Regions from separate parts of the Homo sapiens genome. Here region 1 is linked to region 2. Evidence: fine-mapped expression QTL. Tissue or cell type: minor salivary gland. Region 2 holds a variant in brackets; the other region holds the start of a gene. All regions are shown on one strand. Distances are between the middles of the regions.

Evidence for each region. PIP is the estimated chance that this variant, and not a neighbour inherited with it, causes the effect.
Region 1: MGRN1 starts here. The variant in region 2 is fine-mapped to the expression of MGRN1 in minor salivary gland (GTEx, PIP 0.96).

What each region holds. Positions count from the first base shown.
Region 1 is chr16:4,623,603-4,626,265 of GRCh38, reverse strand. It overlaps MGRN1 (mahogunin ring finger 1), which reads right to left and starts at 1,440. Exons shown (of 17, transcript NM_015246.4): 1 at 1,218-1,440. The coding sequence starts at 1,305. RefSeq lists enhancers at 1-120, 651-1,180, 1,364-1,658, 1,181-1,711, 1,669-1,778 and silencers at 949-1,178, 1,419-1,598.
Region 2 is chr16:5,143,818-5,146,661 of GRCh38, reverse strand. It overlaps the pseudogene ENPP7P14. Among named protein-coding and RNA genes, the nearest start is that of EEF2KMT, 47 kb to the right of the region's middle. The variant G/C (reference allele first, on the strand shown) is at 1,561.

The DNA.
Region 1 (2,663 bases), 520 kb after region 2:
TCCCCAGCAGGCAGGCAACAGTGCGTTCTGCCTAGCTCTGAGTCCATCCCCTTCAGAGTGCCCCCAAACTGTGCTGGTTCCCCTCACTTCATCCCAGTGGCCCCAGGCCCTCACCTAGTCACACCTTACAAAACCTGGGCAGAGCAGTTTTTCAAACCTGAGTGGACGTAAAACTCACATGGGGAATGGGTTGAAAATGCAGGTTCCCAGGCCCCAAGGGGTCCCAGGCAGGCCCTGGCATGTCTAGCAGTCCTCCCCCACTTGTGGACCTGGCCCACACTCAGAGAAATCTGGCCTGTGGGTGTCCGGAGACACCCAGGAGACTGAGACATCAGATCAGATGAGACGCCAGGATCTGAGGACCCAATCTAGATGTCCCCATGATGCCCAAGTTCTCTCTCCTCTTCCTTCTCTCCTTTCCACCACAAAGAACCCCACGAGGAGATGGAGGGTGAGACTTGGAGCTAGATGCTCCCAGTCAACACATAACTCATCAATAGAGGCAGAAAGAGAGCTGGGAACAAAGCTACGTGGGAGCCCCACAGCTGGTCCCGGTCCCAACTATGCTTCCATCCAGCTGAGATCTTGGCAGTCACTTCCTCCTTGGTGTCTTACGTCCCTCAGCCATAACACAGAGGCCCGAGTATCGGCTGGGTCCTCTCAGCAAGGACCCTGGCCCCTCCCGATCAACTATAATCGTCTCCTTGGGCCCAGCCCCACTCCTCCAACCCACACACCAAGAGCCTCCGTCCTGATGGGAGGGAAATTGCCCAAACCACTGGCTCGGCCTTCACACCAAGCCACTAAAGAAAGCGAAAGCCGGCCCCCGCGGTGAGGTCAATCTGATGACAATGAGAGTTTTCTAGGCAGAAGCGATGCGCCGGGACCCGCGCTCAGCACCCCGCCCCGCCCTCGGGGTTTCCCCCAGGAGCTCCCCCCTGTTGCAAGGACGGAGCTGAGGTGCCCGGGGCGAAGGGACTGCCCCAAGGTCACCCAAGCCGGGCAGTAGCAGCGCCAGGTACGGCTCGGGCAGGTTCCTCCGGGGCCCCCAGCCACGCCTAGGGATCGGGGCCGTGGGGCCGCGCGAAGGCTCGGGGTAGCAACGAGGCCCGGAGGGGGCCGAGCAGGGCGCCCCGCCCCGAGTCCCCGCCCCCGCGCCCGCCGGGTCCGCGTTCCAGCGCGTGCCTAGCAGTCCGCGCCTGGGGCCGGGCGCTCACCGGACTTCGGAGGGTAGCGATAGGCCGAGTTCGCCTGGATGTCGATGTCCTCCACCCCCGCGATGCGGCGGCTGAGAATGGAGCCCATGGTGCGCGGCGCTGCCGGGCAGAGGGGCCAGGGCCGGAACGGGAGCGGCGACAGCGGCGGGGTCCTCACGCGGACATGGCCCGGACCAGGCCGCACGGACGCTCGTCCACGGCCGCGGAGGCGCCTCGAGCCCCCACCCCCGGCTCGGCCCGGGGACCGACGCCACGGCGGCCCTCCGCCTCCCGGTCCCGGGGCACGTCGGGAAATGGAGTCCTCTCGCCGCCGAAGGCGCCGGGAAGCAGCGCGGGAAGCCCGTCTGGGAACTATCTTTCCCAGGATGCTCCGTTCCCAGGCCCTCTGACGGGTTGACAAGCACTCCGGGACAAACCAAATGGACCTAAATTCAGAGGGAAGGAACCAACCAACCACAGGGCAAATGGTCCTTCCCTCTGCGTTCCAAGCGCTGCACTAACATATTAACTCTTTGGTCATTTCCTCATCTGTTCGCTTACAGACTCTCCTGGAGCCCCAGCGCCTTCCACTTGCCCCCTCTGAAATAGCTCCCTGAGTCGCTGTGGTTCTCCCCACTCCCCTGAGTTTGTCTCCCGCCCCGACCGGCAGAGGGCGTAGCTGCACCTGCCACCCGGAGCCCACTTGCAGGGTGTGCACGGAAGAAGTGAAGCACCTGCTTTGGCCTTGGCCAGAATTTGAGGACTACCATTTGGGGACTTCTGAACCAGGTGTGGTTCTGAGAGCTGTATAGGCATCAGCCCGTTTTACAGATGAGGAAGCTGGGATCCAGGGGGTTAAGCAACCTCCGGCCCCCTGACAAGGCTGAGGCCCGGTGCAGTGGCTCACCTGTAATCCCGATACTTTGGCCCCACGTCTGGACCAATTAGTTTAAAGACATAATTTCACAGCCTCCACGGAAGGCAGTAGACTCTCCCACATTTTACACACAGGGAAACTGAGGCACAGAGGAGAGAGAGCCGCATGAAATGGCGCTGCGGGCAAGATTGCAAGAATCGCTTTCAGAATGAAAACCTCGCAGTGTGCAAGGTGTTCCCTGGCTTTTGAGTCACACACAGCTCTGCAAATAGATCGCTTTTTACCTACTTTTCAGTTGAGGAACTTGGATTCTGAGCAGAGTGATTTCCCAAGTCAAGCCTGCTGTACCAAGAAAGCAGCTAGGGAGGGCAAGGCAGACTGAGTCTCCAATGGTCAATTCACCACAGTCCATGTGGAAATGCTTCTTATACCCTTCCAGAGACCACAGTCCAGGATCCAGTCTTCCTCTTTTTTTTTAAATTGTTCTGTCGCGCAGTCTGGAGAGAAGTGGCACAATCTCAGCTCACTACAGCCTTTGCCTCCCGTGTTCAAGCGATTCTCGTGCCTCAGCCTCCCCAGTAGCTGGGATT
Region 2 (2,844 bases):
GAGATGCTGAACAGGCTGGGCACAGTGGCTCAAGCTTATAATCCCGGCACTTTGGGAGGCCGAGGTGGGCAGATCACCTGAGGTTGGGAGTTCGAGACCAGCCTGGCCAACATGGCAAAACCCTGTCTCTACAAAAAATACAAAAAGTAGCCAGTTGTGGTAGTGCATGCCTGTAATCCCAGTTACATGGGAGGCTGAGACAGGAGAATCGCTTGAACCCAGGAGGTGGAGGTTGCAGTGAGCTGAGATCATGCCAGTGCACTCCAGCCTGGGTGACACAGCGAGACTCTGTGTCAAAAACAACAAAAACAAAAACAGATTCTGAATAACTGACCAGTTGCTCTGCTAGAAGGTAGGGAAGACAGACTTGGAATTGGGGCGTCCCTGGCCACATGGAACTCTTTCTACATTGTTTTCTGAGCCTGGAAGTCCAACCACAGGCCCCCCTCATGCAGTGCACCTCAAACAGAGAAAGGCGAGGCAAGGCAGAGTGCCTGGTGGCATGAGCCTCACTCCATCCACACAGCCACTTCTTCAGGGGTCCAGGAAAGCTTCTGGAACCTTGGAGATTCCAGGCAAATTACAGCTGCGTTCTTCTGGGGAGATGGCTTATCACTTTCATCAGACCCTCAAAGGGGTCCTTGAATCAGAAACTTAAAAAATAGGCTGGGTGCAGTGGCTCACACATGTAATCTCAGCACTCTGGGAGGCCAAAGCGGGCCTATCACCTGAGGTCAGGAGTTCGAGACCAGCCTGGCCAACATGGTGAAACCCCATCTCTACTAAAAGAAATACAAAACTTAGCCAAGTATGGTGGCACACGCCTGTAGTTCCAGCTTCTCAGGAGGCTGAGGCATGACAATCGCTTGAACCCGGGAGGCGGAGACTGCAGTGAGCTGAGATTGTGCCACTGCACTGCAGCCTGGGTGACAGAGTGAGACTATCTTAAAATTAAAAAAAAAAAAAAAAAAAAAAAAAGAATAGAAATTGAAAAAACAAAGCTGAACAACCACTCAGAGGAAGATTTGCTGAGGTAGATTTTTCTACATGCAAACTCTGACAGGCAAGTCATTTGGGGGCTCTTAGTGTCAGGAAGCAGGAGCCAAATATGCCTTTTCTCGAGAAAGGGGAAGCCACTTCCCAGTAGCGTTAACTTCATTACACTTAAAAGATCTCCCGTGGGCAGATCCTGGATGGATCCCTGAAGGCTGAGAATACGATGGGCACAAACTATCATAAAGCGTGCCCACCTTTTATTTATTCCCAGATTTTGATGAGAAGATATAAACAGGGAGAGCACATTTTTAAAATTACAGAATCACCCCACGGCTCTTCTACATTCACTGCCAGGGGCATAGAAATGGGTATGGCTTCAGGCTGGGCGCGGTGGCTTATGCCCATAATCCCAGCACTTTGGGAGGCCGAGGAGGGTGGATCACCTGAGGGTCAGGAGTTCATGACAAGTCTGGCCAAGATGGTGAAACCCCATCTCTACCAAAAATAGAAAATTAGCTGGGCATGATGGCATGCACCTGTAATCCCAGCTACTTGGGAGGCTGA[G/C]GCAGGAGATTTGCTTGAACCCAGGAGGTGGAGGTTGCCATGAGCCAAGATTGTGCCATCGGAATCCGGCCTGGGCGACAAGAGCAAAACTCCGACTCAAAAAAAAAAAAGGAAAAGAAAGAAAAGACATGTGTATGGATTCAGTGACGGGTAATTTGGCAAAATCAGATAGTGCACTGGACACAGGGGCCCACACCTATAATCCCAGCACTTTGGGAGGCCAAGGGGAGAGGATCACTTCACCCCAGGAGTTTGAAACCAGCCTGGGCAATATGATGAGACCCCATCTCTACAAAAAATACAAAAATTAGCCAGGCATAGTGGTGCACATCTGTAGTCCCAGCTACCCTGGAGGCTGAGGTGGGAGAACTGTTTGAGCCTGGGAGGTTGAGGCTGCAGTGAGCTGTGATCACACCACTGCACTCTAGCCTGGGTGACAGTGCAAGATCCTGTCTCAAAAAAAAATTCTTTTTTAATGCATGAACTTTCTTATTTGGCGATTCCACTTGTAGGACTTTGTCCTGCTGACATATTTGCTTAGCGGTAAGGGAAGTACATACAAAGCCATTCATTGCCTACAAATAACAAACTGTTGCAACATAAAATCTTTTTGGTTCACTCATTGTGGAAACATGTTCGTGTGCGCCTCTTATTTATAACCAGATATACCATGTATTGAGCTGGGGAACATTTACTCTGCTTCAACATTACAACCGCTTTTTGGCCACAGGTTGTGGTTAATGCCTATAATCCCAGCACTTTGGGAGACCAAGGCAGCAGGATTGCTTGAGCCTAGGAGTTCAAGACCAGCCTGGGCAACATAGCAAGATCCCATCTCTACAAGAAATTAAAATAAAAAGTTAGCCAGGTGTGGTGGTGCACACCCATGGTTCCAGCTACTCAGGAGGCTGAGGTTGGAGAATTGCTTGAGCCCAGGAGGTCAAGGCTGCAGTGGGTTATGATTGTGCCACTGCACTCCAATCTGGGCAATGCAGTGAGACCCTGCCCCCACTTCCAAACCAAGAAATAGGTTTCTTAACCTCAGCACTACTGACATTTGGGGCAGGATCATTCTCTGTTGCATGCGGCTGTTCTGGGCACTGTGGGATGTTACCAGCTTTCCTGCCCTCTACTGACTAGATGGATGCCATTGGCACCCCCGCTCCCATTGTGACAACCAAAAATATCTCCAGACACTGCCAAGTGCCTGCTGGGGGGCAAATTCACCCTCATTTGAGAATCAGTACCTTGAGATAACTATACACCATGATGAACCCAGTACCA